7 linked regions of the Homo sapiens genome follow. The protein of the gene in region 1 purifies or fractionates together with the protein of each later gene. This does not show direct contact. Each region holds a gene or a part of one and is shown in the gene's direction. Other genes may lie near its edges.

Evidence for each region.
Region 2: the proteins of LRRC73 (region 1) and TMEM126A purify together in Homo sapiens (affinity purification with mass spectrometry; one large-scale study listed by BioGRID and IntAct). This does not show direct contact.
Region 3: the proteins of LRRC73 (region 1) and KLHL24 purify together in Homo sapiens (co-immunoprecipitation; 2 studies listed by BioGRID and IntAct, with this or other methods). This does not show direct contact.
Region 4: the proteins of LRRC73 (region 1) and UBL7 purify together in Homo sapiens (affinity purification with mass spectrometry; one large-scale study listed by BioGRID and IntAct). This does not show direct contact.
Region 5: the proteins of LRRC73 (region 1) and DAZAP1 purify together in Homo sapiens (co-immunoprecipitation; 2 studies listed by BioGRID and IntAct, with this or other methods). This does not show direct contact.
Region 6: the proteins of LRRC73 (region 1) and DNAJC13 purify together in Homo sapiens (co-immunoprecipitation; one large-scale study listed by IntAct). This does not show direct contact.
Region 7: the proteins of LRRC73 (region 1) and CUEDC1 purify together in Homo sapiens (affinity purification with mass spectrometry; one large-scale study listed by BioGRID and IntAct). This does not show direct contact.

What each region holds. Positions count from the first base shown.
Region 1 is NC_000006.12:43,507,547-43,511,705, reverse strand, and holds the start of LRRC73 (leucine-rich repeat-containing protein 73), read left to right. Parts: upstream 1-1,359; 5' UTR 1,360-1,920; coding exon 1,921-2,192; intron 2,193-2,785; coding exon 2,786-2,946; intron 2,947-3,285; coding exon 3,286-3,408; intron 3,409-3,779; coding exon 3,780-3,880; intron 3,881-4,027; coding exon 4,028-4,159.
Region 2 is NC_000011.10:85,654,005-85,657,042, forward strand, and holds the end of TMEM126A (transmembrane protein 126A), read left to right. Parts: intron 1-58; coding exon 59-252; intron 253-1,589; coding exon 1,590-1,704; intron 1,705-2,304; coding exon 2,305-2,497; 3' UTR 2,498-2,538; downstream 2,539-3,038. UniProt on the Homo sapiens protein: Protein required for the cotranslational protein quality control in the inner membrane of the mitochondria.
Region 3 is NC_000003.12:183,649,123-183,652,622, forward strand, and holds part of KLHL24 (kelch-like protein 24), read left to right. Parts: intron 1-1,173; 5' UTR 1,174-1,234; coding exon 1,235-2,154; intron 2,155-3,500. UniProt on the Homo sapiens protein: Necessary to maintain the balance between intermediate filament stability and degradation, a process that is essential for skin integrity.
Region 4 is NC_000015.10:74,445,477-74,448,318, reverse strand, and holds the end of UBL7 (ubiquitin-like protein 7), read left to right. Parts: intron 1-2,091; coding exon 2,092-2,229; 3' UTR 2,230-2,342; downstream 2,343-2,842.
Region 5 is NC_000019.10:1,410,586-1,414,085, forward strand, and holds part of DAZAP1 (DAZ-associated protein 1), read left to right. Parts: intron 1-3,500. UniProt on the Homo sapiens protein: RNA-binding protein, which may be required during spermatogenesis.
Region 6 is NC_000003.12:132,455,502-132,459,001, forward strand, and holds part of DNAJC13 (dnaJ homolog subfamily C member 13), read left to right. Parts: intron 1-733; coding exon 734-900; intron 901-999; coding exon 1,000-1,079; intron 1,080-1,161; coding exon 1,162-1,331; intron 1,332-1,767; coding exon 1,768-1,867; intron 1,868-3,500.
Region 7 is NC_000017.11:57,861,413-57,864,912, reverse strand, and holds part of CUEDC1 (CUE domain-containing protein 1), read left to right. Parts: intron 1-1,627; 3' UTR 1,628-3,500.

The sequences.
Region 1 (4,159 bases):
CAGGCCAGACTACATAGAAGGCAGTGATTGAATATCACACCTGACCCATGAAGCGGCAGGGAGGCCTCAAGCACAAAAGCCATAAGCCTGATGGAACACTGCAGCCAGCTTGAGTCTGGGCTCAGCTGCTCTCTTGGGAAGCCAAGGAAGCAGTGACAATTGAACAAAACATCCCGACTTAAACCCCGTGTCAAAACAAGGATCTTCTGCACCTGGGCATTGTGTTGATAATTTTCCTGTGGAGCTCTTAATTGAAGCCAAATTTGGCTTTGCCTTGGTGGTACTGGGGCCAGCTCCTTTTAGTTTTTCTGTCTTTCCTCTTAAAACCAACCACCACTCCTAACATAGCACCATCCACCCCCACCACCTCTTTAATATGCTCCACTTAATAAGTTAATTCAGGTGGCTAAGAGTGGGAATAGGGCCTTTGACCTCCCTTCACTATATTGAATATTATATTTTATGTAAAATAATCATCTTAACACTAGTAAATCTGGGTCAGCAGCATCTATCCCTCCTAACAAAGGGACAAACAGAGGTGCCCTTCATTTGTCCTGCGTTACACAAGTGAGTCCCCCACCACCCTGGCCAGAGGACAAAGTTGAGACAGCACCGCCTGCACCGTGCAGTGTGGCTCAGCCGCCTTCACGTCCTCACCAGTGCTCCAGGGCCCTGGCCCTGGCACCTTCTTTGTATTGGCTGCCCCAGTCTCGCGGCACGGACACACCCTCAGATGTCAACAGTGCCCTGCGTACCTGAGAAGGTGTGGCACCAGGACCTTGCATCTATCTGAGGCTCCCCTGCCCTAGGGACCCTATGGGGTACCCTTCTCCCCAGCAGCTCAAGCTGGCTCTGCCCAGCCGTGGCCCCTGGGGCCTCCCTGATGAGGCCGCCATCTTGGCGAGGAGCAAGCGGGGAAGTCCCCATGGGCCGGGATCACCACGCACGCTGCGCCTCGAGTCACGGGGGCGGGAGCGAGGCGCGGCGCGGATGAAAGGGCCCTGGGGCCTTCCAAATAGGAGGGAACAGTGCCCTGGATTCCGGCGGGGGTATGGACCTTAGGAACGGGGAAGGATGGAAGAATGGGCAGAAGCAGCAGTAACCGTGCCCAACGCCATCTCCACGGGGCGTGCCTCCATTCCGCTCCCCGTCAGCCCTACCCACTCAGCCCTGCCGCCTGCCGCCTGCCAGTTGGCTGACCCCACTCCCAAGGGAAGAGCGGCCTATCGCTCCCAGCTCCTTGCCCCGAACCACCCAGTGTACGCGAACCTCGCGGGCCGGCGTGGCCTTGGCCGGGCAGGGGGCGGGGCGAGCGCCGGTGACGCGGCCGTTGCCATGGGAACTCGCCGCCCGCTCGCTCTCTGGAGCTGGAGCCGGAGCTGCCGCCAGCCGCCCGCCTCAGGCTCTCTCTGCCAGCCGTGCGGCCAGGCCCGCGGGGTGGTCGGGGGGAGCCGGGCGGCAGAGAAGGAGGGAGCGGGTACGGCCTCCTAGCCGAGACCGGTAAGCCGAAGCCCTTGAGCCGCTCGCTGCCGCTGCCGCCGCCGCCGCCGCGACCGCGAGGGACAAGGACAAGCGCCGAGCAGCGCCTGCCCAACCCCCGGAACGCGCACCCGCCCCAACGCCCAGACACGGACCGTGCGGGCCGCCCCCGCCCCAGCGCCGCCCCACTTCAGCCCGGCCCGCGCCCTGGACGCCTCCGCACCTCTGGCCGGCTCCGGCTCAGTCCCGGTAGCTCTTCTCCGCCCCCGCCGCAGCCTCCGCCGCAGCCGCAGCCTCCGCCACAGCCGCCGCCTCCACCCCCGGCCCCACTCCGCCCGCGACCCCTGCCGGGGCCCCGACCCCGGCCCTATCCCCGGCCCCGCCCGCGGCCCCACCAACCTCCGTTCCGGCCCCGTACCCGGAGGCCCAGCCGTGGGCACGATGCTGCCCAGCTCCATCCAGATTTCGGGGGAGCCGCTGTCCGGCGCCGAGGTGCGGGACATCTGCCGCGGCCTTCGCGACAACGCCGTGCGCCTGCTCTCACTGCGCGGCTGCCGCCTCTGCGACCGCGACTTTGGCCGCATCTGCCGGGCCCTGGCCGGGGCCACGTCCCTGGCGCAGCTCAACCTTAACCTGGGCGTCGTGTCCAGCCCCAGCCGCATCAAGCAGCTGGCTGAGGCTCTGCGGACCAACCGCTCCATCCAGTCCCTCTTGTGAGTGCGCCCCCTCGCAAGGGGGTCCCGGGCACTGCACCCTTCCATACACTCCCCTGGCACCTCCTGTTCCTCCACACTCCTTCCAGTACCATCCTACCTTCACATGCCTTATGCACATACACCGTGCCTCGGCCCATGCCTTCACAGCACCCTCCAAGCACATGCTTGGACTTTGCACGCGCGACCCTAGCCGTGTTGGGATACCCACCAGTTCCTGACATGAGGTGGGGGCCGTACCTCCCCACCTAATCATCTGCATTTACTTCACTGGGGCAGCTCCTTGGTTCCCAAGGGGGAATATCCCCGTGGGGACGAGAGCCCTGCCCACTGCAGAGTTCCGGTCCACCACCCACCCACCCCTTCTCTGCCCCTCCCTGTGCAATGTCCTGGATCCCTGCCCCAGAAAACAAACCGAATTCTCCCTCTATCTGTATTCCCTGAGAATCTAGAACTTTCCTTCTCCTTTTCCAGGCCTCTCAAGCGCTGTGACTGCCCTCCCCATACCTAGGGCTGACAGAAGTGAAAGTGCCCCTTTCCCATGTAGATAGTGCGGAGGACTGCAGTAACCCTGCTCTCTCACTCTCCTCCAGCCTGCATGGGAGCCCCCTGACAGATGCGGGGCTGGCCTTGCTGAACCCAGCCCTGGCCCTCCACCCTGCCCTCGTGGCTCTGGACCTGGGGGACTGCATGCTGGGTGATGAAGCCATCAACCTCATCTGTGGCCTCCTGCCCCCAGATGGGGCCAAATCTGGTGAGCAGGACCCTGTTGAGGGCTTGGGCTAGTGTGGCAGTGATGAAAATCGAAATGCAGAGGGAAGGGGGTGTGGCCCCAGAGCTCTGATGATGTGGGCGAGAACATCTTTCTACTCCTCTCAGGAAGGGGCAGGACGGGGGGCAGCATGGAGACTCAGGAATCCAGGCTGGGGCAGGCAGAGGAAGCATGGGCCTCCTTAATGGCTCTTGACCTCTATGGTGGGGGTAAGGTGGTGCCCAGCCACTAGGGACACCCCAGAGACACAGGGATTGTGGGGAAGGGCTGGAGGAGGGCTTAACCCTCCCTATTCTGGTTTCTTGCTATGATGCTGCCCAGGCTTGAAGGAGCTAACGCTGAGTGCCAACCCTGGCATCACCCCTAAGGGCTGGAGCCGCCTTGCCATTGCCGTGGCCCACAGCTCCCAGGTCCGCGTCCTCAATCTGGATTACAACCCCCTGGGTGAGGCTCAAGAATACCCCCTTGGGCTGTCACTGCCTCATGCCCTATCCAAGAGCCTGGGACCATCAGTTGACATGGTAACCCGTACACTGGGAGAGGGAAGAGAAACGGGAGCCCCCAGGGGTCAAGGAGATAGCTTTGTGGCGGACCAGGTGACCAACAAATAGATCAAAACATCAGTCACCACCCGTGGGCCTAACTTGCTTCGTGCCTTCACTCACCAATCACAATGATCCCTTCCTGACCACCACCAATTGTCCATGTTTCCTTGGCCAGGGATTAGTATCTAAAGTTGTTAAGGCAATGGGGAAGCTATCTGTAAGGATTAGCAGGCATGTGTATGAATGTGTGCACGTGTGTTGTCTCCCCAGGTGACCATGTGGCAGGAATGCTGGCTGTAGCTGTGGCCTCTAGTCGTACCCTAGAGGTCCTAGACTTGGAGGGCACAGGGCTCACCAACCAGTCAGCTCAGGTGGGAAGTCGTCATGTTTGGGCACGGCCAGGGGATGGGGTGGAGGTTAGTTTATGTGTCTGATGACATACCTAAGGCATGGCAGGTTGAGGTCTGAGGACCTGCCTTAACTGTGTTCATCCTTTTCCATATTCTTCCCCACTTCAGACCCTGCTGGACATGGTAGAAAATTACCCCACAGCTTTGCGGAGCCTGGTGTTGGCTGAGAACAGCATTAGCCCAGAGCTGCAGCAACAGATCTGTGACCTCCTCTCTGAGGGAGAGGAGGAGGAGGAAGTG
Region 2 (3,038 bases), on another chromosome or scaffold:
GGGAAAGCTCACACACACAATAATGCCAAAGAAAAGTTCTTTCTTCTCACCCTTTCAGGAATCTACTTGAAAATGGATCGGTTTATGTTGGATTAAATGCTGCTCTTTGTGGCCTCATAGCAAACAGTCTTTTTCGACGCATCTTGAATGTGACAAAGGCTCGCATAGCTGCTGGCTTACCAATGGCAGGGATACCTTTTCTTACAACAGACTTAACTTACAGATGTTTTGTAAGTTTTCCTTTGAATACAGGTAAATTCTACTTCACTATCACCAAAGAGTTTGCCTTAGTATATGTTATTTGCAGCTTTAGTCCATACTTATTAATATCAAGTAGCTGTATGCTGTAATGCAGTTAAGATTAAATCTTGCTAGCCTATATAATGTGGCAAATAATTCATATTAGTATGGTCTACCAACCAAGATGCACATACACAGCAGTTCTAAATACTTTTTCTTTAATTGAGATGGAGTTTTGCTCTTGTTGCCCAGGTTGGAGTGCCCTGGCGCAATCTTGGCTCACTGCAACCTCCACCTTCTGGGTTCAAGCAATTCTCCTGCCTCAGCCTCCTGAGTAGCTGGGATTACAGGTGCCCACCACCATGCCCGGCTAATTTTTTGTATTTTTAGTAGAGACAGGGTTTCACCATGTTGGCCAGGCTGGTCTCAAACTCCTGACCTCAGGTGATCCACCCGCCTTGTCTTCTCAAAGTGCTGGGATTACAGGCGTGAGCCACTGCACCCGGCAATACTTCCCTTTTTCTAACATATCTTTCTCACAGTGCTCATTTAGAGTAAGAAATATTTGGAAATCCATATATACATATATATGAAAATTATATATATGGAAATATTATATATATACAAATGTATATAAATAATATGTTGGCTACCTTAGATTTTTTATTTATATTTTATAGAGAAGTTCCTTAAAGGGGGAAAATATTTTTATGGGAATAACTCTTTATACAGTAAATCTCTTAAAGCACTAAATGCATATACATTTATCAAATACATGGAGATTTGATTTCCTTTTGAAAATCTACCATGTGTGCTGAATACTTTGAGTACAGTTAATCATAAAAAAAACTTTTGATTAATTATTTCAAATAAAAATATTACCATGGGTGCTAGGGAAGGCAGTCCATCTAAATTTTGTTAAGTGCTGCTCCAAATTTGTTTAAATTTGACGAGTATTTTGTTTTAATTCCCATGACCAGTGGAAACAATTTCTATGATCAAGGAAGACCTATCGCCCATTTAATTGAACAGACTGAGTGAAAATATTAGCCTAGGTCTGTTGATAAAAAACAAGGCAGAAAGCTAGCAGTAGCCCAAACCATGAGATTATTATATCTAAGTTGAGAACAAATTAGAGAACTTTTTTTCCTAAAATAGTTTTACCAATTATTCCTAGCTATTTTAAGTTACTCATAGATGTAATTATACCTTTTAACAGGCTTTGTACAATTACATTTGATATATTACCTGAAAAATACCTGTGATACACAAAAGAGGATCTTACATTCTTTAAATCATGTTTGCTTGACTATCATGACCTTCATTTCTATGACTAATTTATTTCCTAGGTGATTTGGATTGTGAAACCTGTACCATAACACGGAGTGGACTGACTGGTCTTGTTATTGGTGGTCTATACCCTGTTTTCTTGGCTATACCTGTAAATGGTGGTCTAGCAGCCAGGTAGGAAATAAAAAACTTTTTATAATATGTGATTACCTATAAAACTCACAACTTAAAGCAGCAAATATATTTTGTTTTTAAGGCATTTAGACCAAAGGCAATGTTACCCTCTTGATTAGAAGTTAGCAAGACCTGTTTTTTCTTATAATGAAATTCTACTTATCAAGAATTTCAAACAGTTATACTTGGTGTGTAGTTAGGCTATTAACCTTAATTTGTGTACTGAATACTAAACTAACTACAAAGCTGCAAACAGTATTATGCATGAAACTTCTATCATATAAACAATTATCTTGGATGAGTTTGAACACTTGCACTAAAGGAAAATTCCATCAGAAAATGTCTAGCTGTTATATTAGCCTTCTATTCTAAAATAATTCTGGCTATTCTCTGTTGAACTCTTGCATCAGCAATCTATGCTATAGCCTTGAAGCAAACTGGATAAAGAAACAAAAGTTTTTAGGATTAATAGACACTGAAGACCTTTACTTTAATATTCAGTTTTATCTTAAGACTTCTAGGACTAATATGTATCACAGATGGGTTTGCCATTTGATGCAACAATCTTTTCTATTGAACTATCTCAATGTTTTCTTACAGGTATCAATCAGCTCTGTTACCACACAAAGGGAACATCTTAAGTTACTGGATTAGAACTTCTAAGCCTGTCTTTAGAAAGATGTTATTTCCTATTTTGCTCCAGACTATGTTTTCAGCATACCTTGGGTCTGAACAATATAAACTACTTATAAAGGCCCTTCAGTTATCTGAACCTGGCAAAGAAATTCACTGATTTTAAACAAATATGTAAACAAAAATAAAATGGTAAAAACAGTTTATGTCTAATGTTATGTCTAATGTTATGCATAAACATAGACTTGTAATTTATCACGAGGTATAATTCTGGGACCTACAACAAAAGGCTACACAGGGCAACAAAAGGCTGAATCTAAGTAAAAGCTACCCACTTAAACAAGTTTAACTTCACGAGTTTGCCCAGTATTGTCTCTTCTACCTTGCTTGTTCTACCTTAGGCGTTGAGTTTGGTCTGTAACACAAGAGGAAAAAGTAACTATATAGTATTTTACACTGAAGACTTCATAATGACAAACAGGAATAAAAAATGAAAAAATATCTATCAATATACTATACCAAATGTTACTCACAATTCACTTTCTCAATTCAAATTATTAATCCATAGATTCTTAGAACTGATTTAACAACCTTCCTCAAATCAATCATCTTCTTGAGTCATTCAGGCTCAGCTTCAGCTATTATGATATAGACCTACCTACTTCGAGTCACCTTATTTAGAAAGCTGTATTTTTAGTTTA
Region 3 (3,500 bases), on another chromosome or scaffold:
GAACAAGACCTAGATAACATGCATGAAATTTTTTTAAATGAATATTAAATTTTATAATAGAAATTTTGGTAGAAAATAGAGAAGATAAATAAAACATTTTAGCATATGTACATCCTATCCCTAGATTCACAGATACATTATTTTTTCTGTTGGCATATGTTTTGTGATCTACTTTTTCACTTACTGTGTGGTTACTACTTCCCCATGTCGTTAAATAGTCATATATAATTTTTAATGGTTGCATAGACTTTGTTCTAGCCAGAAGATGTACTGTGGTTTGACCAATCCCCTCTTATAGGGCATTTAGGTTATTTTGAGTATTTTCTATCAATACAGCATTGGACATCTGCATAGATAAATCTGTCGACATAATTCTGATTATTTCCTTAGGAGAGAGTGCTAAAAAAAAAAAAAGGACTTGCTGGTCAAACAATGTACATATTTTTAAAGGCTATTGATAGATATAGCTAAATTCCTCTCTAGGAATTCTATATTAAGATAATAATTATTTCACCAGGCATGGTGGCTCATGCCTGTAATCCCAGTACTTTGAGAGGCTGAGGTGAGAGGATCGCTTGAGGCCAGGAGTTCAAGATCCCATCTCTACAAAAAGTAAAAAAAAAAATAGCCAGGCATGGTGGTACGCACACATAGTCACAGCTACTCAGGAGGCTGAGGCAGGAAGATCGCTTGAGCCTAGGAGTTTGAGGTTACAGTGAGCTATGATCATGTCACTTTACTCCAAACTTGGTGACAGAGTGAGACCCTGTCTCAAAATAAAAAAGATTCTTAAAAAGAAAGATAACTGTTAGAATTCTAACTGTAGTCAAATTGTGTCTTACACCATTCTGACTTAACTCTACAGTCAATAGTATGAAACTCAGCTCTGTAAATGGGGAGGAAACGGAAGGTTATTAGTAACTCACGAAGTACATAGTATCCTTTCAGCTAGAAAAGGGGAGCTTAAGGAGTACTATTGCAAATTACCCCAATGTTCTAATTGTTCAAATGCAAATTTTTGTTGATTAGTTTTTATTAACATGAGATAGTGCTGTGTACCCTATATGAAATATATTATGTGATTTTGTTGTAGTGTTTATATTAAAATGAAATTATGTGATTTGAATACTGAATTTTTTGCATATTGAAATGTTTTCCTTTTTTTACTTTTAGCCACATAAAGAAGATCCCTAATAGTCATTTCTCAACAATTATATAGTCAACTGATGTAACAATGGTACTAATATTGGGACGCAGACTAAACAGAGAGGATCTTGGGGTGCGTGATTCCCCAGCAACTAAGCGAAAAGTTTTTGAAATGGACCCCAAATCTCTGACAGGTCATGAGTTTTTTGACTTCTCTTCAGGATCATCCCATGCCGAAAACATACTCCAGATATTTAATGAATTTCGTGATAGCCGCTTATTCACAGATGTTATCATTTGTGTGGAAGGAAAAGAATTTCCTTGCCATAGAGCTGTGCTCTCAGCCTGTAGCAGCTACTTCAGAGCTATGTTTTGTAATGACCACAGGGAAAGCCGAGAAATGTTGGTTGAGATCAATGGTATTTTAGCTGAAGCTATGGAATGTTTTTTGCAGTATGTTTATACTGGAAAGGTGAAGATCACTACAGAGAATGTACAGTATCTCTTTGAGACATCAAGCCTCTTTCAGATTAGTGTTCTCCGTGATGCATGTGCCAAGTTCTTGGAGGAGCAACTTGATCCTTGTAATTGCTTAGGAATCCAGCGCTTTGCTGATACCCATTCACTCAAAACACTCTTCACAAAATGCAAAAATTTTGCGTTACAGACTTTTGAGGATGTATCCCAGCACGAAGAATTTCTTGAGCTTGACAAAGATGAACTTATTGATTATATTTGTAGTGATGAACTTGTTATTGGTAAAGAGGAGATGGTTTTTGAAGCCGTCATGCGTTGGGTCTATCGTGCCGTTGATCTGAGAAGACCACTGTTACACGAGCTCCTGACACATGTGAGACTCCCTCTGTTGCATCCCAACTACTTTGTTCAAACAGTTGAAGTGGACCAATTGATCCAGAATTCTCCTGAGTGTTATCAGTTGTTGCATGAAGCAAGACGGTACCACATACTTGGGAATGAAATGATGTCCCCAAGGACTAGGCCACGCAGGTGAGAAGACTGTTTTCAAATATAGTTAACAAAAGTTTTTAATATATCTTTAAACCTCCTGAATGCAATCTCAGTGTTGTCATTTATATGCACTGTCTACCTGTGGCTGTATATAATTTTAGATTTATTTTGGATTATATGTCACTAGAATGTCTTTCCTAGTGAATTCTAGATTCAACAGTAGCATTTTTTGTTATTGTTGTTTTGTGCTATCAAACAGTGTAGCAAAGGGTCTTTGCAACTGTGCATATCTCAACATATTTCTACTAATTTCTCTTAACCTTTGTAGGGCCCCAAACCATTCCACTTTTCTTTCCAAAGAGTCTTTGGATACAGGGTAGCTAAGATTTTAGTAGGCTCTCTTGGACTGCCTCTACTTATAAAAAAACAATTTGCTCCTGGGCACAGGGGCTCACACCTATAATCCCAGTACTTTGGGAGGCCAAGGTGGAGGAGCGCTTGAGCTCAGGAGTTCGAGACCAGCCTGGGCAACATAGCGAGACCTCATCGCTACTAAAAATAATTAGCCAGGCATGGTGGCACGGACCTGTAGTCCCAGTTACTCAGAAGGTTGAGGTGGGAGGACTGCTTGAGCCCAGGAGTTTGAGGATGCTGTGAGCCATGCTCTTACTGCTCTCCAGCCTGGGCAACAGAGTGAGACTCTGTCTCAAAAAAAAAAGAAAAAAAAATGTTTGCACATCCACAGACTGGCCTTTGTCCTAACACAGAAGCATGAAATATAGAGGTGAATTAAATAAGCTGGTATACATTGAGTGAATTCTGAGATGTAAAATCCAGGCCTCAAATATTACTTAATTGTCACAGTTATTATATTTAATGTCAATCTCAATTTTAAAAAATCTTTTTTCTGAATGTGAAAATTACATCATCATTATAGAGAATTTGGAAAATGTGTGCTTAGGGGGTAGAATGCAGTTAAATATTGTAGCATATTTGTATCTTCTTCCAGTATATTATTTCTATAAAATACTTATCGATTTTAATTCATAAACTATAGAAAAATAATCTCCATGCCTTAATAGTGGAAGGAATATTTATTGTGAATAAGCAAGAAATGCTTGTTATGAGAAATATTACAGTAAATTATCCTTTTAATCCTTTTAATATTTTTCTAACAAAGCTAATGTTGGTGTTGGTTTTTTTTTAATTGTGGTAAAAAACACATAACATAAACTTTACTGTCTTAATCATTTTTAATTATACATTTCAGTAATGTTAAGTATATTTACATTGTTGTGAAACTAGTATTTTTATTAGTTTATTATTGGTTTATTATTAAGCCATCTCCATTTTTTCTGTGAATTTACTATAGCATAGCTCATAAA
Region 4 (2,842 bases), on another chromosome or scaffold:
GCACACTCTCAGACCATACACAGTGGTCACTAGGCTTCTCCTGCCCCTAGTGACCATGGCCTGACTCCCTAGACCACCTGGCTTAGATAATCATGGCCATTTCATTCATTCATTCAGTGATCATTGACTGAGCATGTGTATACTAGGCCTGAGTCCAGATGCTGGGCTAGTGGCAAGCTGGTTCTCATCCCTGCCATGGAGGGGCACCAGGCAGGCACTGAGCTGGGGAGCAACAAGGCAAGAAACCCAGCTGCTTGAAGTAAGGGCCTAGGTCAGACAAAACTTTTCTGAGAGAGGGGTATTTAAGCTGATTGTCAGAAGAATTAGTTAGAAGTTAGCTAGCCAGGGAAGGGGGTTTGAGGTAGGAAGGGGCTGATTTCCAGGTGAAGACAGCTACCTGTTTGTGCACATGTGTGGAGGTATATGTGACATACTCAAAACTACAAGGCTAGGATGCAGTGTCCAGTGTAGAAGATCCGCAGATGGGGCCAGAGAAAGAGCAGGAGCCTACGAGAGGGGCTTGCATGCCAACCTGCGGAGATTAGACTTGATGACTTGATGTAGCAGTCACCAGGGATCCCTGGGAGGCATTGATTGATTGATTGATTGATTGAGACAGGGTGTCACTCTGTCACCCAGGCTGGAGTACAGTGGTGTGATCACAACTTACTGTAGCCTCAACTTCCTGGGCTCAGGTGATCCTCCCACCTCAGCCTCCCGGGTAGCTGGGACTACAGGTATGCACCACCATGCCTGGCTAATTTTTTGTATTTTTTGTAGAGATGGGGGGGTCTCCCTATGTTGCCCAGCCTGGTCTTGAACTCTTGGGCTCAAGCGATTCACCCACCTTAGCCTCCCAGAGTTCTGGGATTACAGGTGTGAGCCACCACACCTGGCCCATGGGAGGCTTTAAGGAGGAGAAAGGTCACCCTAGCAGCTAAGTGGAATACCTGAGGGGCCAGCATTGTAGTTCACAGCTCCATGCATGAGCAGTTTGGTTCACGTCTGTTTTCCTCTATTCCACATAGTAAGCCTATGGGTAGAGCATCATCCCTGGAACTTGTCTGGGGTCATAAGGCCATGAAGTCGTAACGATAGGGTTCAAGCCTGTGTGGTTTTCACTGTTCCATGTGGTCCTTGTAGACAGTGAGGGAACAGAAGCAGGATTCGTGAACAACTTGTCTTCTCCATTCTTGCATCTCCCCTGTTGCTAGATGCCTGTTTACTTTATTCCCTAGCTCAGAAGCTTTCACTGGTTCCACCTGGCCTGTAAAATGAATTCAAATTGATCTGTGTGCATTTTTTTTAAGCCCTCCATGTTCTCATCACTGCCTGCCTCTTTGACTTTGCTTTTCTTCCCCTTTGCATTGCCTTCTTCCCACATGTGAACACGTTGTTTTCCCTAAATTGTGCTCATCCCTGCTGTCATGAAATAGAGATATTAATGAAGCTATGAAAGTACTAGAAGAAAATATGGGTGAATTTCTTCAAATCCTTATAGTAGGGAAGGGCTTTCTTGGCTGAAACTCAGTATCCAGGAGCCATTAAATAAAAGTTATGCATTTTGGGTTTGTAAAAGCGAAAAATTTAAAACATCTCTTACAGTCCACAAATAGATATACCTACTATATACCACAAAAATTTAAGACATTTAAAAAAAGGTGAAAATTTCTGCGTGGCAAACCAAACCAAACAAAAAACCGAAGCAAAGTCCAAAGGCTAACAAACTGGGAAAAAAATCTGTAACACTCATCACATAAAGAGCAAAATCTTGCTGTTGTGTGTGTACACATAGCAAGAGAAAGAAAGTAATTTAGCCTCTTGGAATTCAGACAGTGAATAATTTGTACATTCTCTTTTGATCCTTATGCCAAGAATTTCCTTTTTTTATTGTAAAACTTTGGATTTGTTCTCTTAACCCTCAAGCCTATCTTTTAGTCTTCCTAGAAGCACCGTGTTCTGTGGAACTCAGCATCAGCAGCTTTGCTGAGGACTCCCCCATCTTCCTTTCCTTCCCCGGAAAGCACAGACCTAAGTGAGTCTTCACTGGATCCCAGCTAACAGCTTCTGCCCATTCCTATCTTTCCACAGAGCCAGTGGCAGCCCCAGCTGCAGCAGCTACGTGACATGGGCATCCAGGACGATGAGCTGAGCCTGCGGGCCCTGCAGGCCACCGGTGGGGACATCCAAGCAGCCCTGGAGCTCATCTTTGCTGGAGGAGCCCCATGAACTCCCTGCTTCCCCTGAACCCCCAGCAAGTTGCAGAGGCTACTGCCCTTGGGAGGCACTCATGAAGGTGCCTCCATCTCTCCCTTCCCCAATATACCTGATGGTCAACTCTCCTGCTTTGTCCAGTTCTTGACCTTTCTGGCTGATCTGAGTTGGTGGAGGCAGTGGGGCAAACAAGGTGTGCTGGTCTTGATGCTGTGGCATCAAAGCAGGGCTGGCCCCTAGTTCTGGGCCCTGGATGGAGGATGTTAGACCCTACATCATGGGATGCTGTGAGATACCCATGTTAACTTCTGGGAGAAGTTTCCAGCCGTAGCCCCCAGACTCTCTGGGGCTTTGGAGTTTGGGAGCCTCAGGATGTGCCGAAGTCTAGGCAGAGCTATCACCCAATCTTCAGGGTGGCTGCTGGATTACAGCTGTGCCCAGAAGAGGCTTATGCTTCCGAGATGTCCAGTCTATGGAGTGGCTGGGTGGACTTTCAGGGGAAGCACATGGAGGCAGCTTGCCTTCCACATTTCTCTCTCTCTCAATGGCTTCCACAGATTTCTTTGTCCACCCCACCAGTCTATTCTCACCAAGCATTTTTTGATGCTTGTTCTGTAATGATTCCAGA
Region 5 (3,500 bases), on another chromosome or scaffold:
GAAGCTGACACAGCGCGGCCGGGGTCGCCACATCCTGTTGAGTAGCCGCTGGGTGCTAGGCGCCTGGGTGGTAGACCAGGTGTCAGGGATAGGGCCCATGCCTGGCCTACTGGGGAGAGGACAGAGGCTCAGAGGGGTCACCTCGAGCGCCCAGGCCATTGTGTTCTGCTGGCTTCCAAGGCAGCACACGGTCATGGAACTGGAGAGAGAGGTTTATGGAAGATTTTATCTGGTACACTGGGGAATGGTAAGACAGGGACACCTGGAAATATTGTAGGAAAGTCACAGAGGGAGGAAGGACTCAGCGGAGAGAGGAGAAAGCCGCCTCTGGGCAGCTTCGAGGATACCCAGGACTGTGGCCGGGGGCCATGCAGCTCAGAGCCAGGCCCATGGCAGGTCTCTGGGTTTATTGGGTGGCTGTGGAAGGAGACATCCTGAGTGGGGCTCCTGGCTGGGCCCCTAGAGGCCGTGACTACTTGTACCTGTGCAGAGTGAGCACAAGGCACCTGGCAAGATTGTTGGTCAGGCCAGAGAGGGCCGTGATCTGGGGGAGGCTGTTGCAGTGCGGGGAGTGATAGGGAACCTCATGGGGCCGTGCCGGCCTTTCTGGGGCTCTCTTGGTGCATTTGGAGTTATTCCGAGGCAGGTCTCCTGGGCTCTGTCAGCACTCTGGCCTGGATCACTCTGGGGCACCGTGGGCACTGCAGGGTGCTGGGCAGCACCTTTGGCCTCCATTCACTCCGGGTCAGGAGTACCCCCAGTCGTGACAACCACAAATGTTCCCAGACATCACCCAGTGTCCTGCTGGGGGGAGAGCCACTGTCTGGGAGCATCTGTGCTTTTGGCCTGGTTGCCCCTGCGCTGGGGGCCGCTGCTCCTTGTGGTTTATGGCTTGTCCTGTGTCGGCTCCTTTGATTCCTGTGAATGGGCCTTGAGGGTGGATGTGCTCCTGACTGGCTCGCCTTGGCTCCAATGGTCTGGAGCAGGCCGGTGTCTAGAAAGGCAGCAGCATGGACCCTGGCGCTTGCCCTTCACACAGCAGCTCCCCAGTGGCCCAGAGCTAGCAGCAGCGCGCAGCGTGCCCAGCTGTGCTTGTAGCCTTGGCTCTAACCCTTGGCTTTGCCAGAGAGACTGAGGCACAGAGGAGTTGAGGGATGGGCCCGGGGTCACCCCAGGGGGTGGAAGATCCGGAGCTGGGAGTCCACACTCCTCCACTGCCCGCCCCGCACAGAGGGCGCTCCTGGTCAGGCGGCTATGTTCATGGTGCGACCCGTCAATCTGAGGTTGTGCTGTCTTCTGTGAACTGAGGCCTTTTCCCATCCAGGCCTGGTCCCCGTGACACCATGTCATGATGTCAGAATCCCTGAGAGCTGTGACAGGGCTTTTGGCAGAGGCCAGTCATTCGACAGATGCTTATAGGCTGAGCTTCCAGCTTGGCTCCAGGCGTTGCCAAGGAGAACACTGGTCCGCCTGGGAGGGCGGGGCTGGCAGGGAGAGGATGAGGGTGACCACAGTTAGCACCCAGGATGTGGGCATTCAGGGGCTCCTTCAGCACACAGCAGCGCGTTCCAGTTCACGGACCGCTCCTGTGTTCTGTGGACCCCACACCCTGCAGGCGTGGGCTGGAGGGGGGGCATCTGACCCTGCTGGGGAGAGGGAGTCCAGGCTATGGAGGGGCGGGCTGGGCTCACTGGCCTGAGGCAGTGGGTGAAGTGGTCCTGGTTTCCCACCTGGTCTTAGGGGCAGGAAAGTCCCTAGAGGCTCTTCCTGATGCTCTGGAAGAAGAGAAGGGTTCCCCACACATCAGCCGCCACTGGGCCTGGACTTCTGCCTCTTGAGATTGTGCACGGAGCTGAGTGTGACTGGCGGAGCCCAGAGCCAGGTGGGGTCTGTGGGGAGGCAGGCTCCTCCTGGCTTGGTCCCCCGGCCCAGCAGGAAGGGAAAGGTCGCCTGCCAACTGCCCCCATTGAGGCTGCTGGCCCCGAATGGCCGGGCTGGCCGCCGGTTTTTGAAGCCCACTCTGGTGCTGCCAGGAGGTCAGGGCTCTTTGTGGTCAGCCTAGGCCAGAGGAAGCCTCTGCAGATGGACTTTACGCATAAATACCGCACAGGCACCCGAATGGCACGCAGCAAGCGAGGTTGCCATCCAAAACGGCTTTTGCTTTAACAGGCAGAAGAGGGTGGCTGCGCCGGCCACCGTGGATTGAGCACCTGCCAGGTGTCGAGCTGCAGGCCCTGGGTGCCAGGCTTGCAGATCCTGGGAGATGTTCATCATGACCTTTGATGGGCAGACTGCACGCTGGACTCCAGGTTGCAAGGGAAGAAGTGGAGCTCGTCCCACGCCTCCCCCACTAATGAGAACACCCCTTTTGGGTTTGTGGGGTGTGAGGTCTGTAGGAGCCACGACTTCCAGTGTCGGAGATGCCGTCAGCTGGGTGATGACTCTCCCACCCAGCGGGCCCCTCAGAGGCAGGGTGCAGGAGCCACATTGCTCACCGACCCCTTCATCTGCGTAGGCCAGTGTTGCCTTGCCCCGTTAACGTCCTCAGTCCACACGCCGCCAGCCAAGGTGCAGGCTGAGCAAGCCTGGAGCTGAGGACAAGCGGACCGCCAGCCCCGTAGCAAGCCCACGAGAGCCAGCAGCTCCTCCTTTTGGCCTCTGCCCGCGCCCGGCTTCCTGGACTCCGACGTTTACTTGTGTGAGAGTTGGTTCTGCTGCCTGGGCAGTTGATGGACAGTGTCTGGGAGGTGCCTGCCCAGGGCTCCGCATGTTTCTGATGTGCCGGCTTCTCACTCACGACCTGGTGAGGTTGGCAGCCAGGAGCTTTCTTATTTTATTGATTAAAACATCCTGAGATTCAGAAGTAGGGACTTTGTGCCAGGGCCCTGGAGGCAGTCCCTGCCACTGAAGAGATGACCCTGCTTTCCGGGACTTCCCGGAGGCTTCTGTCTGTAGACCAGGGAGAAGGTGTTCGCCGGTGGCTCCTGAGTGGTAGTAAAAGACACATGGACACAGGAAGCTTTAGCGTTAGAAGCTGCTCTCAAATATCTCAACAGAAACACACAGTGTGGCCGCGCGCGGTGCCTCACGCCTGTCATCCTAGCACTTTGGGAGGCCGAGGCGGGCGGGTCACCTGCGGTGGGGAGCTCCAGACACAGCTATGTGAAACGAAAGCTATCTGTTGCTGTCTCAGATTCCATAAGGACTGAGACTTGTTTCAAAAGAAACTGAAATTCTGTCTTGTTCTCAGTAATGAAAGTCTTTTATACCATAATTGTATATATAACTTCTGACTTACAGGAAAATTACAAAAATTCCCATATCCTCTTGGCCCTGCCAGACTCACCATTGGCTGACATTTTACCCTTTGGCACGTGGTGCCTCTTGCCCCACCCCCAGTGAACTGTGTGTGTGTGTGTGTGTGTGTGTGTGTGTGTGTGTGTGTGTTTAGATGGACCCTCACTCTGTCGCCCAGGCTGGAGTGCAGTGGCTTGATCTTG
Region 6 (3,500 bases), on another chromosome or scaffold:
ATGAAAAGATGCCCACAGAGAGACTTGCACATGAATGTTCGTAATATCATTACTCATAGCCAAAAACAGAAGCAATCCATATCTAGATCAGCCAGTGAATAAACAGACAAAATGTTGCCTGTTCATACAATGGAATACTACTCAGCAATAAAAAAGGACTGACCTAATACATGCAACAACTTGGATGAATCTCAAAAGCCTATGTATGATAAGTAAAATAAGCAAGACACCTAAGACTACATATTCTATAATTCTGTTTTTATGAAGTTTCTTTAAAAAGCAAAACTATAGAGATAGATCAGTGGTTTCCTGGGGCTGGGGAGTGTTCTTTTGCAAATGGGCACAAGGAAATTTTTTGGAGTGATGAAAATATATCAGAACTGATGATGATTATACAGTTGTATAAATTTATTAAAAATTATCAAACTGTACGTTTTAATTGGATGACTTGTGATTTGTCAATTAGAACCGAGTAAAGCTGTTAAAAATAATTTTAAAGGGAGAGAAAGAGAAATTAAAATTAGTGTTTAAGTAACTTGTACAAGGTCATGTAGCAGCACGGTGAAGAGCTAGTATTAGAGCTCTTCCTAAAGCCCCACTGTTTGTGTTTCCCATTGTAACTGTAGTGTGTCCCTGAGCAGATTACCTGCTAAAGGGCCTATGCTTCATGCTAGATCAAAATTCCCCTTAATCATCAATGCTAAAACCTTTTTTTACTTTTAATCTTACTTAGAGATTCCTTATTAGCAAGTTTGCTGGATGGAGTAAGAGCCTCTGGTAATAGAGATGTTTGTGTAAAAATGACACCAACCCATAAAGGTCAGCGATGGGGGTTACTCAGCATGCCTGTTGATGAGGAAGTAGAGAGCCTTCACCTCAGGTTCTTAGCTACGCCTCCAAGTAAGTATTGATTTAAATGTAATTACATTTCCACTCATCTACTTAATTTAAGAATTAGGAATTCGTATCTTCTTTTTGAACCTCTTAATCTCTTTACAGATGGCAACTTTGCAGATGCTGTATTCAGGTTCAATGCTAATATTTCATACAGTGGAGTCCTACATGCAGTAACACAAGATGTAAGCTAAGTTTTATCATAATTGTTCATTGTTACTAACTTTTGGTATGGAAACTTTTTTGAAATACTCTTTCTTCACCTAGGGTCTCTTCTCAGAAAACAAAGAAAAACTGATCAATAATGCCATAACAGCATTACTGTCCCAAGAAGGGGATGTCGTTGCTTCAAATGCGGAACTTGAGAGTCAGTTCCAGGCTGTGAGGAGGCTTGTGGCATCCAAAGCTGGTTTCCTGGCTTTCACTCAGCTTCCAAAGTAAGTTGTCTTCTGAAACTTAACTTCTCTTAGAGAATTTGAACTACTCAAAATGGCAAATAATGAACGATTCACCTCCTTTTCCTTGACTAAACCAGATACCTTTTATAGGGTGATATGGTACTTTATTCATGAGAAATGAAAAAGGAAGGTGAGGGCAGCAGAAGCGGAATATTGGTCCCATACTCACCAGTAATATAACTGACTCTTGAATTTGAATGGGAAATTACATGCCTTTTAGTTTTAGTTAACCCTAAAAAATATTTTCCCTCTCAAAGAAAAAACTATTATGAAGACTGATAAATTTCAGAGGTGGAATTTAAAATACGTCATTGTTCCAGTAGTGCAATGGAAAGTTAATATGATCTATTTCAATAATATAACAATTTAAAATGTTCTGGTATTGCTAGTATATGCTTGTTTTTTGTTCCAAAAGGTTTCGCGAGCGTCTAGGGGTGAAGGTAGTAAAAGCACTCAAAAGAAGCAACAACGGAATAATCCATGCAGCAGTTGATATGCTTTGTGCCCTTATGTGTGTAAGTAGTAGTTTTCTTAAGGAAACTGGTTTTTCTTAAGTTGACTGGTGGTTTTGATTTCCACAGTCCCAGATTTTCATTGTACCAATAAGTTCTTGTTTCTGTTTCATAAATTGTTCTCATAGTTACTCAAACCTTTGTTTAGCATATCCTAAATACCAGGCAATGTGCTGTGTGCCAGAAATTCAAAGATCTTAAGACAGAAGTTCTTTTCTTCCTCACTTTGTTGACAGTCTGGTAAGGTAGGCATATCTGTACAAGGTAAGGTAGTAGGGGCCATAGGATCTTGAAAAGCAGCACTTTATTTTTGTTTGGTGATGAGGGGAAGATGAAAGATTCTCACCCAGTCTTTCTGGAAGATGTTACATTTGATCTGAATCTTGAAGGACAGGCAGGAATTTTCTAGCTCTGGAAAGGCCTTCCTGGGTGGGGAATAGCATATAAAAAGGCATGTTTGGAAAGCAACAAATAATTAAATATGGTTGGGTTATAAGGTATGGATGGGGGGTAATTAGGAGTTGCAGCTAGAGATGTATGCAGACAGTAATAAAAAACCTTCTGTATCAGGAGGGAGGAGCTAGATTTTTATCTTTTTGTAAGGAACACCTGAAGGATTTTTTTTAGCAAGAGAGCAGTAATGTGATCAGGTTTGAGTTTTTAAAAACCCACACTGGTAGTATGTGGAGAATAGAAGTAAAATTAGAGGCAGGTAGACCAAATTGTCACGTAAGAAATGAGTTGCTGAGCTAGGGTAGTCACAGGGCTAAAGAAGCAGCACACCTGAAAGCTGTTTGCGCAGTAAAGATCTAACTTAGTGGCAGCTTGTACAGAGGGAGAAACAATTGTTTAGTACAGTTTTGAAGTTTCTGATTATCTCAGTTTTGTGTGTAGTACCTGGGACTTTTCCTTATATAAAGTGTTTTAGGCAAGCTTAGTCGTACATAAACATAAGTAAATACTTCTGTAAAACCTTGCATTCCCAAAAGCAAATTAATTTTATTTACTGTTCCAAACAAGTAGTGAGATAACTAGAACTTAACAATGATATGGAGAGTTGCTTTATTCGAACAAAAGATGTTCCTATTACCCAGGAAATTCTAATGGTAGAGAGCTTTGTGTCAGGCTCCCCTATCAGGAAATTGCAAAGTTCTTAGGAGCTCTGTGTCAGGAACCAGGGTAAAAGACTGTTGCAACAAAAGATTCTGCTAGTGCCCCTGTCTGCAAGGGTTTTAGGTGCTCTATGTCAGGAGCCAAGGATGGAGACCAATGTATATATTTTTTAATATTTCATGTATTCTCCCTGCTCAGAATTCTTTCCCTGCTTATTCATTAAGAGCTCAAGTCAGCTTTTAAATGAAGCTTACCAAATATACACACCTACTATGTACCCACAACAATTAAAATAAAATTTTAAAAATAAATGGAGCTTTCTTATTCCTGAAGGTGGTAGTGATGTATCCCTCCCTGAAGTGAGATTACCCTTCATAAATATTACACTTGTCTTTCTTAGCAATTTCTTCTTTGAATTATTGCTATTTCTAAACATGATGTATTTTTCTCAATCTGTCAGCTTCCTGAGGATAATATTCATGTTTAATTTTAATTTTTATCCTTAACAGGCCTTGTCAAGCTG
Region 7 (3,500 bases), on another chromosome or scaffold:
GCTAATTTGTTTTTGTATTTTTAGTAGAGATGGATTTTTGCCATGTGGCCAGGCTGGTTTCGAACATCTGACCCCAGGTGACCTGCCCGCCTGGACCTCCCAAAGTGCTAGGATTACAGGTGTGAGCCACCGTACCTGCACCTCATCATTTATTTCTGTCCTAGGACTTCCAGCTTGTCCCCTTCCAGCTCCTTCTGCAAGTTGACATCCTCCTCCTCCTCCCCTTAAACACCAAGGGTCCTTGAGTCTTCCCTGCCATCCTCCTTCATCCACTGCAGGCTGACAGCCCCTCCCATCACTCGGATTGACTCGGAGGTCACCCAGCAGCTCAGGGCCTTAGCATCTTCTGCATTCTTATGGTGCTCTTCCACACGCACTCCCCTGATCTCTCCTGAAGCTGCCCTCCCTTGGCTCCTGTGACCCCAGGAAGCCAGGTTCTCCTTCCTCTCTCCTGGCTCCTGTTGCTCCGCCCACTCCCTAAATACTGGCTCTCCTTGTTGCTCTGCCCTTGACCCTCTTCGAAGTCTTCTCACTGCCCACTCTGGCAGTGCCTCCGCCCTCTTTTATAGCACCAGCAACACTTCTGCGCATCTGGCTCCTACATCTGAATCTCCATCGCAGTTAGGCTTCCAGAGCTGCTTCGTGTCCCCAGCTGCACCCAAGATTTTCTTTTCAGCCTTGGATAGCAACTCAGTCTCTCCTCCTGACTGCCCCCTTTCATTCTCTTTTCTATTCCTTCCATTACCACCCTGATAGATGCTCATCACCTAGGTCACAGCCCTGTTCTCTTCACTGCCCCTACCTACTCTGATTATCCCACCACCAAAACACCACTTTAGTTCCATTTTTCCTGTGCTCTTTGAATGAATCTTTTTTTTTCTTTTTCTTTTCTTTCTTTTTTTTTTTTTTTTTGAGATGGAGTCTCGCTCTGTTGCCCAGGCTAGAGTGCAGTGGTGCAATCTCCACTCACTGCAACCTCCCCTTCTCAAGTTCAAGCCATTCTCCTGCCTCAGCCTCCCGAGTAGCTGGGATTACAGGCACGTGCCACCCCGCCCGGCTAATTTTTGTATTTTTAGTAGAGACGGGGTTTCACCATGCTGGTTAGGCTGGTCTTAAACCCCTGACCTCGGCCCGCCTCAGCCTCCCAAAGTGCTGAGATTACAGGCGTGAGCCACTGCGCCTGGCCTGAATGAGTCTTCTGAGTAAAGTCTTAGGAACTCTTCAGCCTGGTGTCTGAGTCCTACCAAGTTCTGCCCCCAGTTTACTTTTCTCCACCTACAGGTCTTTGTGGCCTAGCTCCCCTGAGCTATGACGTATTAGAATGGGCCAGGTACCCTCCCACGTTGAAGCCCTCCCCTACAGCTGCTTCACCCCGGGATTCCATTCCTTCACTCCATCTCCTGCTGCCAGAGTCCCTGCAGCTGGGCAAGCTGGAATGGTTCTAGGAATTTGAATGGGGGGATGACCCAGGCAGAGTTCTACGGTTGACCTCGAGTCCCTGGAAAAAGGAGAGGGCTTACGTCTTTAGTAACTTCTCCCAAAACTGTCTCTCCAGGAACCAGTGACCAGGAAAGACCATTGGGCTCCTTTGAAAAAGATTCCTCCCATCCCTTTTTTCCCCTACCAGATGCCAGCAGCTCTTCCTTGCCAGAGATGATCTGACCCGGTGGGGGCAGCTGGAAAGCAACACTGGCCCCCAGCTGAAGGGCCCAGCTGCAGCCAGACAGATGGTGCTTGAGAACCGAGGCCCGGTGATCCTCCAGCCACAGTCCAGCCCAACCACTGCCACTTTCCATGGGACTTAGAACTTCGGAGTTGCTGCCTTGCAATTGGAGGAAGGACCTGGGGCCCCTATAGGCAGCAGCCAATTACAGCCCCTTTTGTAGCCAGGCGTTCCTATGGTCAAAGAGTGGAAATGCAGGAACCAACCTCCCTTTAAAAAAAAAAAAATCCAGAAAGCAGATAAAAGTTGGAATATGGAAAAGGGCAAGATGACCCCCACCAGAGGCTCTTTGGCCTGAAGGTGGAGTCTCTGCCTCCGTCCGTTCTCTATCTCTCCTGTCACAGACTCTGCCTGACCCCCTTTCCTCAGCTCCCTTCTGGTCCCCCTTCCTCAGCTCCCTCCGGGCACTTGTGCCCTTCCCTTCCATGTCCTCCTGTATCTCAGCCTTCCCCCGGGGCTGCTGGCCCAGCACACGAGCCCTGCACCCAGCCTGGGTGGGAGGTCCCTGGCCAGTCCCCCAGGAACTCTGAGGAGCTATGGGCTACTGCAAAGCATCTGCCGACTGCCCTGCCCCGTCTGGCCTCATCAGGCTGCTGCTGTTAGGGATGGGCTCACTCCCAGCAGCTCCCGGTCACCCAGCAGGGATGGGGAGGGTGGCCACCCTGGAGCTGGAGGACTCTGGGGAGGCAGGGTCTTTAATTTGGCAGCAGACAAAAGCCAGTTCTGGAGTCACACCACAGTAGGGGCTCACAGGGGCTCTGACTCCCCAGCTGGACTGGAAGCCCTGCTGTCCGAGGGTGGGCAGCGGTGGGTCCTGGAGTGACCCCTTTGAGCAGGTGCAGGGCTAAAGAGCAAGGCGGAAAGGCCGCCAGCCTGGGTGAGCGCCTAGGGCATAAGGGCTTGCTGGGTGCCCCTGAGAAGGGCGGGTGATCTGAGGAGGAGAACTCTGATTCTAGGAACGCTTACACGGCACTGACCACTGCCACGGGGAGGGAGGCTGCCCAGCCCGTGGCCCCGCCCTGGACATGGGAGCGCGCAGACCTTCCGGAGAGCCGGGAAGCCTGGGCAGGCACGAGGCTTCGGCGCGGCTCTGGGAGGTTGGGAGTGGCATCCGATCCTTGGCCGGGCCCTGGTGGCCTCCGTGGCCCCAAGATCACAAGGGCGTAGCGAAGGCGAGCCGGCGATCGCACCTCGTCCCGCCCACCCTGCCCGGACTCGCAACGCCGAGCTTGGGGAGGGCCGGGACGCGCAGCCGCCGCCGAGCGTGACCAAGTTTGGAAACGCGCGCGGGGCCGGGACGCTGGCTCGGGGGGCCCTGCCGAGGAGCGGTCGCCCCCTCCGCTGCTCCCCGCGCCAGGCCTGGGGCCCTGGAGGGAGGGGGGGGGGTCTCCGAGGAGTGCCTCGGTACCCCAGCTCGAGTTCTCGACGGGTCTCTGAGCCTTCCCCGCGCCAGGACCCGGCGCACTGTGGGGGAAGCCCCAGCCCCATGTCTGTTGAGTGTTGCTTTGTTATTTTTTTTCCTCCTATGTGTGGGTTTTTTCTTGGAGCTGTTTCATAGGAATTCCTGTAATAAACAGTTGGTGTTCTCTTGGTGCTCTGATGTGGCCAGCGGCGTGGGCTGGACCCTCCTGCTCCCTCCTCCCTCCCGGCCTGGGGCAGGGTTTGTCCCCAGGAGCCCCGCGTCGCATCCCTAGGGTACCCCTGCCTTGCCTGGCCCATTCACCCGCGGCGCTCTCCGACTGCACTCTCGAGGTGACACCTGCGGCACCGCTGCACC